Linked DNA regions of Homo sapiens. The protein of the gene in region 2 purifies or fractionates together with the protein of the main gene of each other region. This does not show direct contact. Each region holds a gene or a part of one and is shown on either strand. Other genes may lie near its edges.

The links.
Region 1: the proteins of SYT3 (region 2) and FNDC3A purify together in Homo sapiens (affinity purification with mass spectrometry; 2 studies listed by BioGRID and IntAct, with this or other methods). This does not show direct contact.
Region 3: the proteins of SYT3 (region 2) and KLHL13 purify together in Homo sapiens (affinity purification with mass spectrometry; one large-scale study listed by BioGRID and IntAct). This does not show direct contact.

What each region holds. Positions count from the first base shown.
Region 1 is NC_000013.11:49,205,684-49,210,527, reverse strand, and holds the end of FNDC3A (fibronectin type-III domain-containing protein 3A), read right to left. Parts: intron 3,448-4,844; coding exon 3,133-3,447; 3' UTR 749-3,132; downstream 1-748. UniProt on the Homo sapiens protein: Mediates spermatid-Sertoli adhesion during spermatogenesis.
Region 2 is NC_000019.10:50,629,391-50,634,234, forward strand, and holds part of SYT3 (synaptotagmin-3), read right to left. Parts: intron 3,422-4,844; coding exon 2,896-3,421; intron 782-2,895; coding exon 394-781; intron 123-393; coding exon 1-122. UniProt on the Homo sapiens protein: Ca(2+) sensor involved in Ca(2+)-dependent exocytosis of secretory vesicles through Ca(2+) and phospholipid binding to the C2 domain.
Region 3 is NC_000023.11:118,109,695-118,114,538, forward strand, and holds part of KLHL13 (kelch-like protein 13), read right to left. Parts: intron 1-4,844. UniProt on the Homo sapiens protein: Substrate-specific adapter of a BCR (BTB-CUL3-RBX1) E3 ubiquitin-protein ligase complex required for mitotic progression and cytokinesis.

The DNA of each region.
Region 1 (4,844 bases), on a different chromosome or scaffold from region 2:
TAGAGACTCTGAAATTTGTCAAGCATATTAACCACTGAAGCCTGGAACAAAAGAAAACCTTCCCAAACACAACAGGTTTCTGGGACTTTTCATTTATCTATTATGAATGACAGCACTGGGCAAAGCTGAACAAAAACATGATCCTTCATCAGTACTGGGAAGTCTGGAACAGCTAAGCCTGGAGTGAAGGAGAGCTACGTGGTAGCTTGCCTGACAGTGTTCTTTAAACTGGTTGTCCTTTAATAGGACTCATGATTGTCCTCAACCTAGACCTTGAGCTTGAAGCTATGTACTTACCTCTTGAATAAAAAAAAAAAGTTGGCTTTATTTTAAACATTGAGTTCTCCTCTTTCCATATTGGCTTCTTCAGTGAATTTTTCAATGATTTTTTTATGGTGGTAAAATATTTATAACATAAAATTTACTAGCTTACCCATTAAAAAAAGAAAAAAAAAAAGGCACTGAGTGTCCATCCCCAGGAGGAAGTTCTTGGGATGGAAATTTTAATGGGGGATGAGTGAGAGAATGTTGGATTTTCTGGTGGAAGGCAGACCCAGCAGTGCCACTACCAGGAAGGTTCTGGGCCTCTGGTGGTGGGCGAAAGAAGGTACTAGAAAATAGGGATGTGGGAAAGGCAAGGAGAGGTTAGGGATTTTCTTCCCACTGGGAAGTTTACCTTAGACTCACTGTATTCTTTATATGTGGAAAGGAAGTAAGATATTTCATGAGTTGCACAAAATCAAGTCACTAGGATAAAACTTCTAATTTTATTCTTTACTGGGCTTTATATAATAAATATACATCCTCTCATGTTGAAGATTTATATACTGTTGGGAAAAATGTTTTAAGCTCATTGGAAGAGGGGAGACCATAACATTTCACTTTCTTAAACAGGTAGCAAATAATGAATATATATGAATACAATAAACGTATCTCAAAAAGAATGATACAACTTTTATTTTCCATGGATTTTACAGATACTTTTGCTACATAGTTTATGTATTTTTATGAGATTTTTTTCATTTGTATGAAGTTCATTCAGCCTTATACAATTTTAAGGTGATATGTTTGGTAGTGTATCTATAATCTTTAAAAAGTTTAGAGTTTTTGGAATGTACAGTATATGAGGTAAAATCAAGATTACATTAAAAATTGTTTTCTCCTCTGCACTAATTTTGCAGTGAGGCTCAAATGGCAAGTATACTATTAAATGACATTTACTATCAAAAATAGGAAGTTCATTTGAATTACTATGAAAAACATAAGCCACTGTAACTTGACACAGTGGCACATTTTACCATTTTAGACATTCAACTATATATAAATCTCTGGGCTATTACACTCAGACTCATTTGTACTGCCAAATGTGGCACTTTAAAGAAGTTTCTAGAAAACAATCGCAATCACTGTTGTTTCTGGGGAAGGTTATCACCCTATACATAAGAGATTAAATTTAAATAAAATGTAAACATACAGTATATTATAGTGACAGGTCATTCTTACCACTTAGAAAGGCCAAGTTTATCCATTTCTTTTTTGAACAAGGGTTAATGTTTTTCTACAGCACAGATCATTTGACATAAAACTGTTACAATACATGCCCATTCTATTATAAAAGAAATTCTTCAGAGATCTTCAAAGCACAAAAAATACGTTCTTTTTTCAAAGACTGACAGAAGTGCTTAATAATCACTAAAATGCCAACCTCAGCAACTAAAAATTAGTGATTCGCTATCCTAAAATTCAAATAATAAATTAAAAAAGCTAGTTACAGGTGTTTTACGGATAACAGATGTGCTAAAACAAGAATTGTAGATAGTTTCATTATAAACTGTATTATTACTTGCAGTCATCGACATCTAGGCAAGATGTACAATGTGATACTTGACAAAATTCAGTCTGATCATCCAATAACTCACAAATGCAAGCTCACAAAACATTAATGAATTATGCAATTGCAAAGTGCTCTAATGCAACATTAACCACATGCAATCAACAATTTGGAACAGTATCCAAACAGACATTATACGTTAAACGTTTAGTTTTCAAGAAAGAAAGCAGCTTGAAGTTTACTGGTGCAAATTAATTTTGTCTTCAGATTTGGTGCCCCAAACAAAAAGGTTAGGTTTGATTATGAATTCTGATGGTGGTGGCAGCAGTTATGGGAGAAGCAGCAGAAACTTATGGGAGTTCTTCAAAATTAGCCTATACCAGACAGAGTGAGTGTATGTATGTAATATATACTTCTACACTTGTTATGTGTATATGTGTACACTTGTTATATGCCATATATGTATGTGTATACCCTTATACACATACATATAGTTCAAAGGTTCACAAAACAGAAGCCAAATAGGTTTGAAATTCAATTTACTTTTATGATTACTTTCTAAAAAGTATTTAAAAGCACTCAATTCTTTTCCATGTTCTCAAGACCTGAAGAGGTACTTTTTGAGTAAACATCAAAATATTTTTAGGCCAAGTAAACTGTCTGTTCTTTAAGTACTTATCTGTGAATTCATGAATATATATTTATAATGAAGAACTCCACATTTATCAAAGAAGCTTTTCTTCATGCATACTCTTTCATCCAGTTTTTGTTTCTAAGCCCCTCCAGTTACTCATCATAATCCCACTTACCAAATAATTAAGACAAATGAGGAGGTAGAAATATAGCACTAGATTGCTTTCACAGCATCAGACTTTAACATTTTATATAGCATGTTAGTGTAAATTCTATTCATTCTGAATTTTTCACTTGGTAATAATCTTTAAAACAAACAGATCAGGTTATCACTGTTACACTCATGCCGATTCGTCAAAATATCCATTCTAAATTGTTGCCTCTTAGAAAGTTTTTCTATAAGAAGGCATTTGTTAAAAAAAGAGAGAGGGAAAGAAAAAAAGAAGACCCACCCTAACAAAAAAAACAAAATTGATATTTTTGTGGCTTGCATTCTAATAAAGTGCCAGCCTCTACCTAACAATATAAGCACTGAAAATGGCAAAAATGATGTGCTATAGTCTCAATGCCAGTGCTAAATGCCACTGTTTTTTATAAAAGCAATACAGAAATAATTTTAGTACATGACAAAATAAAATGTAATAGAGTTAAAAAATAAAGTTATATTTTCACTTGATTACAAAGTACTGAATGATAAAGGCAATCAAAATGGAAAAGAAAGCAAACAGCACAAGGATGACGGCAGCACACTGCTCGTCACTCAGTGCCCGTCGGGTCCTTGTGCTTTCCACAGTGTCTCTGTTGGTGCTGGCTGGTGGTTCAGTCCTCTGAGAGATGAAGAGCACTGTGGTGCTGTAGGGACCTACGAGGTCCTGGTGTCCCAGAGAGTCTTGGCACTGGCGAATGGCACATACACGGAAGCGATATTCACAGTTCAGCTGAAGGCTGGAATACCGGAAGGAAGAGTCGGGACCCTTGTAAATCTGTTAATAAAATATTAGAAGGAAGAATTACGTGTGAAGGCTGGACAGAAAATGTGTTAAAACTGGCTAGTGTTAGAATTGTTTTTCATGTGAAAGCCAGTGAATGCCATTGATTTTATCTTTTAAATGACATGTTAAAAATACCTGTCCATTAAAGTACTTATCTGTTTGTTGCATAGGGGCAAGAGAAATTTCAAAAGCGAGGATCTACCCTTATACGGTTCACAGATGAATTAAGGAGTGCAGATGTGCCCCAGGGCAGCTAGAGAACAAGCAAAATCGGTCCTCAAGCATTTTCTTGCTTTTCTCAAATGTAAGAAGTCATTTTTCAATGCAATCATTCCATCAAAGAAGGGATAGTGTCTACTTTTGCTTCCCCCATTATGTCTTTGTATAACTGATAAATTTCCATATAATTTCAAACATATCTGTACAATGAAATGGAAAATGAATAAGGGGAGCTTTCTATAGGTGCCTATGGCAAATCACTGTATAAACCAGAGAGGGGAGATCACTTAGAATCAGAAAATAGGACCTCCTCTGCCATGCCTCACAAGGGAAATAAAAAGAATGAAATTCCACGGATTTTCAGAGGAATGTGCTAGTAATTAACCCATTTATGCCAGAGGTTGCAAATTTTTTTTTTGTGAAAAATCAGACCTTGGCAATAACCTTGATCAGTGAGATATAAATAACTACCACAAGCTTAGTGTTCCAATAATGGAACACTAGGCATAAATAAGAAGCTATATACTAGAACTGTTCACCCCTGGCATCCAAGGTCTGCTCTACCACTTCACACTCCAGATGTGATTTTAGACCAACTACCTTAGTATAACAGACATACTAGTAGTTAACATGTATGATAATTATGAGGATGAAATGAACTAATGCTTGTTAAAGCACTTAGCGCAGTGCTCAGCATGCAGTCACTGCTCAATCTGTAGGAGCTATCATTTCCAATAATGAGCAACCTCCCACCACTCATTCTGTAATTGAGAAAACCAAGGTTCATAGGGTTAAATGACTTGTCAGTTGAGTTTCTCCAGTTAGTTGGTGGGCTACAAGTCAGAAGAACCAACACATGGGGGCTTTCAAGTACTTTTAGCTGCCTCAATTGTACCTGTGATGTAAATCTAAATTTTTACATATTGCTTTGCTCTCAAAGTAAAGTAAGATCTCTGTCTCATTTTTCTGTCTCCAGAATCTAGCATATAGTAGGTACTTAATAAAAGGACATTAAATTAGTGAATTATTGGCAATAAATAAAAATGTGGATGCTGATAACAATATATAAAGGAACTTACTGAAAGAAGCTTTAAGATAAATCTGAAAGAAAATGGTGACTATACATTAGTTCTAAGGATGCATAATGTTTCAGGGAATAGAATGTAGAA
Region 2 (4,844 bases):
TGCCGCGAGAAGCGGTCAAAGTCATAGACGCTGAAGTGCAGTTTGCGTTGGGCCAGCTCGGCCAGGGGCACCGAGAATTGAAACGTCTCATTGAAGACGGGGTTCAGGGTCTTCCTGTGCACCTGGTGGTGGTGGGCGACAGGAGACAGACACCGTGCCCATAAGCCCCTCCTCCACAGGATCCAGGAGTCCAGCCCCCAGCCCCTCCTCCCTCAGACCCAGGAGTCCAGGCCCCCAGCCCCTCCTCCCTCAGACCCGGGAGTCCAGGCCCCCAGCCCCTCCTCCCTCAGACCCGGGAGTCCAGGCCCCCAGCCCCTCCTCCCTCAGACCCGGGAGTCCAGAGCCCTAGCTCCCTCTCTGTGGGAACCCGGTGTCCAGCCCGCTGCTCCGGACCTTGGTCTGAAACTTTTTCTTGCGGTCAGGCAGCAGGTAGATCTTGACGTAGGGGTCTGAGAAGCCGTTGGAGTCCTTGGCAGGGAGGTCCAGGGCCTGCAGGATCCTCACCACCAGCTGGTCCGAGCCATAGAGGTACCGCAGGGCGAAGCTGATACGGCCACAGGGTGCCCCTGTGCCTGCCTCTCCAGAGCCTGGGCCCCCACCGCTCCGCCGGCCACCAGGGCCAGTCCCCTGGTACAGCTCTGGCTTAATCTGCCCAATGAGTTTGGCTTTTTCCTCGCCTCCAGGCAGGGGTAAGGGCAGGGCAGGTGGCCGCTCCTCACTGCTGGGGTCCGGCTGGGAGGTCAGAGTCTGCTGGGTGAGGGGTCGGGGCAGGGCTGGGTACCTGTAGGGGGTTGGGGGGAGACCAAGGTGAGGTCAGTGGCTCTGATCTTCGACTGCATGCAGAGACCTGGGAGACTCCTCCCTGCCTTTCCCCCCATCCCCCAGCCAGGTGGCCACAAGTCCCCTCCTTTGCTCACTGTGTGAGCTTGAGGAAGCCACTGTGCTCTCTGAGCCTCAGATTCCCCATTGGTATCTGGGGGGCATTCCTTCTCTCCCTCCCTCCCTCCCTCCCTCCCTTCTTTCCTTCCTTCCTTCTTTCCTTTTCTTTTGAGACGAAGTTTTGCTCTTGTCACCCAGGCTGGAGTGCAAAGGCGCGATCTCGGCCCACTGCAAACTCTGCCTCCCAGGTTCAAGTGATTATCCTGCCTCAGCCTCCCGAGTAACTGGGATTACAGGCATGCACCACCATATCCGGCTAATTTTTATATTTTTAGCAGAGATGGGGTTTCACCATGTTGGTCAGGCTGGTCTTAAACTCCTGACCTCAGATGATCTGCCCGCCTCGGCCTCCCAAAGTGCTGGGATTACAGGTGTGAGCCACCACACCCAGCCTCATTCTCCCCATTTCAAAGCTAGCTCCAGCCCAGACCTGTGCATAAACCAGCTTCCAGTAACCTCTTTTGGACCTCAAGCTGGTGACCCAGGATGCTTCTCCATGGACCCCTGGCAGACCTTCTTTGAACGCTCTTCTGCCCTTCTCTTAATCTCCCCGGCTGTCTCTCCTCTCTATCCCCACTGTCCTGGTCACAGCTCAGGCCTTGTCCTCTCCTGGACTCTCAGCCTCCAGTGTCTCCCTCCAGCCCACTCCCATATGGCCCCAGAGGGTTCCTTCTACACCCAGAGCTGAGCCTGCCCCTCCCCTGCTCACAGCCCTCCCATGGCTCCTCAGTGCCCTCAGGACAAAGTCCCAGACCCTCAGGCGGGCACTCAAAGCCCCATGTGGTCTGGTGTCTGTAGTCACATCTCTGAAGTTTTCTTTTTCTTTTTTCTTTCTTTCTTTTTTTTTTTTTTTTTTGAGATGGAGTCTCACTCTGCTGCCCAGGCTGGAGTACAGTGGTGCAATCTTGGCTCCCAGGTTCAAGAGATTCTCCCGTCTCAGCCTCCCGAGTAGCTGGGATTACAGACACACACAACCATGCCCGGCTATTTTTGTTTGTTTGTTTTTGTATTTTTAGTAGAGATGGGGTTTCACCATATTGGCCAGGCTGGTCTCGAACTCCTGACCTCAAGTGATCTGCCCACTTCGGCCTCCCAAAGTGCTGGGATTACAGGCATGAGCCACTGCGCCCAGCCTGAAGTTTTCCGTTTTTCAAACTTATTCTCATGCCTTGGTGACTAAGGCTTGGTGCCCTGGCTGTCCCCTTGGTGTGGGCTGTCCTCACAATGCACTAGGATCTCGTTCTCCTCTTGTCTTTGCCTGGGCCTCTCCTTTCACCTGGAATGCCCAGGTCACAGCCCTGCCTCTTTGCCTTCCCAACTCTCCCTCAGCCTGCAGGTCTCAGCTGAGACATCTCCACCTCCAGGAAGCTCCCAGCCTTCTCCCAGTTGCGGTTCCCTGAGTCGCTTTCCTGTCTCACCAACCTGGCTACACCAGGACAGCCAGTCTGGGGGTCGCCTCCCCTGCGCTGTGAGTGACAGGAGGGCAGAGTCTGGTGTTTTCCTAACACCCCTCTCAGGCCTAGTTTATATCAGTGCTCAATATACATTTACATGTATATTGAGAAATAATGAATGAAGGAACTCCAGGTCCCACTACCAATCCTGGCTTAGGGTGAAAGGGGGTGAACTGCCTTGTGCCACAGGGGACTTGGGGATCCAACCTTATTCTCCTCTACTTTCCTGTCCTAAGTCCTGCCCCCAGTCTCCTCCCTCTGGACCCAGGAATTCAGGCCCCCAGTCCCCTACTTCTTCTGGTCCAAGGGGTCTAGACCCCACAGCCCCAACCTCCCTCAGATCCAGGAGTCTAGGGCCCCAGCCTCCTCTTTCCCTAAGATCCAGGAGTCAATACCCCGATTCCCCTCCAAATCCCGAACTCATAAGAGCTATAGATAGGAAAGAGACACAGAGGAGGAGCAGAAGTTCAGAGTGGACCCCCAACCCAGTATCCTCTCTCACCTGGTAGTGGGTGCCAGGCTTGTGACCTGCTGATGTGACTGGGCACTGGGCAAGCCCCCACCACTGGGGGGCAGCAGGAGCAACCCAGAGCCTGCTCCCCCCTCAGAGGGCAGCTCAGGGGATGTTTGGCTCGGTTTGACCCCAGCGGCCACTGCTGCTGCTGCAGCCTCTGGATACGAGTCCATGTCCAAGTAGGAGGGCTCAGGGGTGTCAGAACCCCCCAGGCTGCCTGGCTCCAGCAGCTCAGCAAAGGGTGGATGGTGGGCGGCATGGGCATGGTGGTGTGGGCCGCCCAGCAGAGGATGGCCACCCAGGCCAGCCGCCAGGTGGTGCCCGCCTCCGCCTACCAGGCCTGCCAGCCCGACACCAGGGCCTAGGTCTTTGCGCAGGGGGCCACCGCCCACTGCCGAGCCTCCCTTGTCCCGCCAGGGCACCCAGCACAACTTCCAGGACACGAAGAGAGAGACACCCAGAAGGACAATGCCACAGAATGTCACGATGACCGACAGCAGGCTCACGGAGATGTCTGGAGAGAACGAGGACAGAGGTAGGGGTCAGGATGGGGTCACAGTACATCCTCCCTCTGCTGTCCCCAAAGAGTTAACCCTTCATATTTGCCATGCAATTGTCCATGCAATTGCAAGTGCCAGGCACTTTACATGTATTACTTAATTTATGTTCTACAACTCTACAAGGTTAAGTATTGTATTTTTTTAAAGAGATGGAATCTCTGTTACTCAGGCTGGAGTGCAGTGGCATAATCACAGCTCACTGCACCCTCGAACTCTTGGGCTCAAGCAATCCTCTTACCTCAGCCTCCCAAGAAGCTGGAACTACAGGTATGTGCTATCACACCTGGCTAACTTTTAAATTTTTCTGTAGAGATGAGGTCTTGCTATGTTGCCCAGGCTGGCTCGAACTCCTGGCCTCAAGCAATCTTCCCACCTTGGCCTCCCAAAGTGCTGTGATTACAGATGTGGCCACTGTGCCCAGCCCAGTAGTTCTATATGACCATTTTAAAGATGAGGAAACTGAGACACAGAGAGATTCAGTGATTTGTTTAAGGTTTTACAAGTAATAAATGACAGTTCTGAGATTTGAATCCAGCAGTCTCTCTCCAGATTTTATTCTCTTAATCACTAGACTTTGCTGCCTCTCTATAATAGAACACAACATGTGAGGTAGCACCAAGGTCCTCCAAAATGCTCAGAGATGGTCAAGGAAGCATGGACCCTGCACGACACAGTTAGGCAGGGCAGGGTTTAAATCACGCTTGCTGTGTGGCCTTGGGAACATATCTTGACCACTCTGAACCTTACATTTCCCATTTTCCAAGTAGGAAAAATCAGTTCTTCCCTCTTACAGTAGTTTGAAGGAATGCAGAAGGTAAATCACATGTGGAAGATAATAACAAACATATCTTGAGGGGTGATTACATACCAAATAGCTCAGTACTTTATAGAGATCAGGTTATTTAAGCCTGCCAGGCACTACATGAGGTTGGCAACATATTTATCCCTGTTTTCCACAAAAGAAAACTGAGGTCTGTATACCCATAGTTACCTGCTCAAAGTCCATAGCTGGTAGGTGGTAGAGTCAGGATTTAAGTCTGGGAAGCCTGGCTTCAGAGCCCATGGTCTTTACTATGATGCTATCACACCTCAACGCTTCCCAATAAATGGTAGTTCAAATGTGAATTTTTATTAGAATAATAAATCCTATTGCTGCCACTATGTGCGTCCAACACCATCAACAAGATAGCTAACACATTCTGAATGCCACATATGTGCTGATATGCCTTGCAGAGAAACCCAAGTACAGAATTGTTCTTACAATCAAAGGTTTTAGGCTTCTTCAGTAATTGGTACCAGGAGTGGGGTTTTTCAGAAATGACCTTCAAGGAATGGGAATTTGTTTTGAAATGGACTTCTGGGTGTTGACAAAGTGAA
Region 3 (4,844 bases), on a different chromosome or scaffold from region 2:
AAAGAGCACTAGACAGAGATTCTATTTGTTTAGACTAGCACAATGCTTGGAATATAATAGGCACTTAATAAGTATTTGTTGAATGAATTGGCAGAATAGTTTCAAGGACTAGTTTTCAACTGCAAGAAAACTGCAGAAAAAATCCTTTGAGACATGTAATTACTGGCAACCCCACAAAACCGAAGGAAAAAAAAACAGGCCAGGTACAGTGGCTCATGCCTGTAATCCCAATACTTTGGGAGGCCACAGCATGAGGATCACTTGAGGCCAGGGGTTCAACACCAGCCTGGGCAACATAGTGAGACCTCATCTCTACCAAAAACAAAAGAAAATACACCAATTGTGTATTGGTAAAGAACAAGAAAATCCATGTTGTTTTAGTTTAGTTAGAAAGGAAAAGGCTGTCAAGATGTTATATAAAGATAATACTGAGGGGGGTTGTGTTAGGATAATTAAAACCCAATTCATATCATGGACGCTAAGAAGAGTTTTCAATTAACTCTTGGGTTTTCCTTTGCATGTTTTTAATCTTAATGATGTCAAGTTTACAGAGGAAAATAAAGAATTGTAACGCACACTCATGTCCCCATGTAACCATGCAGGGCGCTGGGGCTAAGGAAGGTCAGGAATCATGTCTCATTTGTTTTCTACCTTTCTCTTTTCTACTTTTCTATTTCTTTTTCTTTTTTTTTTTTTTTTTTTTGAAACTGAGTCTCGCTCTGTCACCAGGCTGGAGTGCAGTGGCACGATCTTGGCTCACTGAAACCTCCAACTCCCTGTCTCAAGCGATTCTCCTGCCTCAGCCTCCCAAGTAGCTGGGATTACAGGCACATGTCACCACGCCCAGCTCATTTTTGTATTTTTAGTAGAGACAGGGTTTCACCATGTTGGTCAGGATGGTCTCGATCTCCTAACCTTATCATCCGCCCGCCTCGGCCTCCTTAAGTGCTGGTATTACAGGCGTGAGCCACCATGCCCGGCCTTCTCTTGCTCTTAATACAGATTTCTATACACATTAGCAGTTCAATAAATGTTCAACAACTGCAAAAAAATAAGTGTCTAATCACATTAAATAAGTTCTTAACTGAATTTCTTACCCCCACCCCCACAAAAGACTCTCTTGTGCTAAAGAAGCATAGGTTGGTTTAAATAACAACAGAAAAACAAAAACTAAACTGCTCTGAATGGTACCAGATGAGAGTACTAACAGACGAGTCTTGGCTCATTTCAATTACATGACCCTGCCATATCTATTTTCCTATGACATGAGAACCACACAGCCAGTCCTCTATTTACAGTTATTGCATGAGTAAATCAGTATATATTTACATGGTAACTATTATGAGCAAGCTATTGGGAAAGATAAAGTAGTTTATTTACCTCCCTAATCTCCACCACCCACAGCAACAACATACTATGTGCAAGGCCCTGATTTAAGCAGTTTACTGCAAGGTGTACAATCTCATCGAAAAATCTTGGTGCCAGATGTGTTTCTGAATTTAGAAATGTCCAGACCTTTAGACAGGAAATATACTTTATATACCATATGTTATGTAATACACCATTAGGGTCTATGGTGCAACCCCATAAACATATTAGTAATTCTATAGCAAAACAAAATAAAGATCAACATTAAGTAGAATAAAGACTATAAATACCCTATGTCAGTTTAAGTCAGGTTTTGCCACCACATGAGTTTTGGCATCTAAGTTACCAAATAAAATCTTTTTCAGTTTTCAGAGCTTTAGAAATTTAAAAATTGCAAACAAATTGTGGGCCTAGGCCGGGGGAGGTGGTTCATGCCTGCAATCCCAGCACTTTGGGAGCCCGAGGTGGGTGGATCACCTGAGGTCAAGAGTTTGAAACCAGCCTCGCCAACATGGTGAAACCCTGTCTCCACTAAAAATAAAAAGTTAGGCCGGGAGCAGTGGCTCACGCCTGTAATCCCAACACTTTGGGAGGCCGAGGCAGGTGGATCACGAGGTCAGAAGATCGAGACCATCCTGGCTAACATGGTGAAACCCTGTCTCTACTAAAAATACAAAAAACTAGCCTGGCGTGGTGGCACGCACCTGTAGTCCCAGCTACTCGGGAGGCTGAGGTAGGAGAACCGCTTGAACCCAGGAGGCGGAGGTTGCAGTGAGCCGGGATCATGCCACTGCACTCCAGCCTGAACGATAGAGTGAGAGAGCGAGACTCCGTCTAAAAAAAAGAAAAAGAAAAAGAGAAAAGAAAAAGTGGGCCTAGCTAATTCATGTAATCTTTGCAAGTACCATAAGAGGCAAGTTCTATTACCCCTTTTTTACATATGAGATAACTGAGGTACAGGGAGGTTTACTGACTCACCCAGTGTCTCACAACTATTAAGTCTCCTAGCTGGAATTGAAACCTAGGTGGCCTAGCTCCAGAGCTTGAGCTCTTAACAAGTATGCTCTACAACCTCTCTCAGAAACCACTTCGGAACACCAAACACGTGAAAAGTAAAACAGTATTAAATGATCTAACATCAAAAAATTAATAGGAGAAACATCACAAGACAGTATTTATTCATTATTCAATAACTATTTATAAAGTGCATACCATGTGCTGGGTGCTCAGAATACAACAATGAGCAAACCGGATGAGGTCTAGGTCGCCTTCATGAAGCCAGAGGCAAGTGGGGAGATGGCCAGGCATCAAATAAGCATAATTATGACACAACAGGGCAAGTGTGTGACTGCTGTTCACCTTCAGAGGGGGAGATCTAGTTCAATGGGGAATAGTGTAATAGGACCTGGAATTTGAAATGACAAAAAAGAAAGGCATGGCATCCATTTGACAAGCACCCACTGTGCACGTACTCTATGCCAGGAATAATGCTAAGCACAAAAGTTCCAAACTGGGGAAAATCAGTTTAAACCAATAGAGATTTGTGAAAGGGAATAATAAGGACATATGGGAAAGTAGGCTGGGATCAAATCAAGTTGACCCTGCAGGCACTGATGAAGGTTATTTTGCAGGTTATTCCCCCACAATATTAGGATTTACTCCTATGGAATGTCAATAATCATCTGCATTCCTATTTGGGACCAACTAGACCTCAAAGCTGGATTGCTTTCAAGGAAGGGCTTAGGGCAATAAATTCATTTAAGCCTCAGGAAACACAGTAACCCTAATCTCTCAAGGAATAAAGGTATGGCCATTTGAAAATGTTGGAGAGGCAACAGGTAAAAGAAAATGATAAGCCCTTCTTAAAATTCCAAAGGCCCTTTCTAAAACCTAGGTTATTCCTTTATACAAAATAAAATTTCCAACCTTCCAAAGGAAACATATTTCCATGAGAAAATAAGATATCATTCTTTGAAAAATAAATTCTTAAGTTGAACAATGATCTGATTTTTAATAAAGTTGGTGACAACTTACCTTGTAGCACAAGTCACAATGTGACAGTGGAAAGTAAACTGCCTTTTAACATACTCACCTCAGGGTTCCCATTCCCCCATCCCCTTACCTAAACAGAGTAGAGGAACCGAATTACATGATTATTTAGCATACTGATCATAGAGTTTTTTTTATTCTCAGGTATTAATATAAATGACTGAATGAGTAGACATTCTATTTATCCTCTGCAAAACATTTTTTTTTAAATTTCCCTGGATAATTTTTTTAAGCCAATGACCTTCCCCAGGAAAGACTCTTCAGTGGCTTCCTATTGTTCTGAGAATCAAACCCAAATTCTTTCTCAGGACCTCCAAGTCCTATTTATCGGTTATTGAGCTGCTTCTAGGCTCTGTAACATCTTCTTTAATCCGCCATGCTGGCTTGCTTTCTGCTCTTCAAAAACGCCAAGTCTCTTTTTCCCCCCTCAAGGCCTTGGCTCTTACTCTTCTCTCTGCAAGAATGTTATCTCGGGAATGTTCTCCCAGATCCTGACAAGGTAGGCCTATTCTCTCTTCTCTTTCAGGTCTCTGCTCAATCATCTTCTCTGAAAGGCCTTTTCTGACTTCCCACACTAAAGTAGGCCCTTCCTAGCTATCTGTATCATATTCCCCTACTTATTTTCATTGCTCTTACTACAGTCTATAAGGATCTTCTTCATTTGTTTGCTCGTTTATTGTCTGTATTCTCTGGTAGAATATAAGCACTGTGATACTCCACAAGAGCAAAGATCATGCCTTATAAGGTTTATCATTGTGCCTAACACAGGGCCTTGGCACACAAGTACCCAGTAGATTTTGTAAAATGAATTAGTAAATGAATGAATGATACATAAAAACCTGATTGTTATGAATATCAGTAACTTGAGAAAGCCATTTTTATAATTTTGAGATATTTTCTCTAGGGCTATTCATTTCTCTACAGTCTTTCCACATTTTCTGAAATAATTCCTGGAAATTTGTTGTATTATTTCATAGCAATAAAAATACATCGGTTTCAATCAGTGGATTTAAGAAAAAAATATTTTCAAGAGGTTTTAGTGGTTTATCAAACATCAATAAAAATCAAACAATTTGAAAATTGGTCAGTCTCATTTCACTACTGCAAGTCAAATTACATGAAGAAGCATAATTTGAAATGTACATAAAATGAGAAAGAAGATAATCCAATAAGTAAGTGCAGTTACATTTAGTAATATCAGAAATATCCAGTCTGCTAACCTCTAGGTGTACCAGATGGACTATCAAACACATATTGAGTCATATTGAAGATTCAGAGCAAAATGCTTATGGCTAACTCATCCACCTTTATTCTTTTCCTGGCAAATATAAATAGTCTTACTATGCAATCACATTAGCAGCAATCTTAGCTTAGATTTTGTATCAATAATAAGCATGAAAAGAAAAAAGTAAGAAAATAGTATAAAC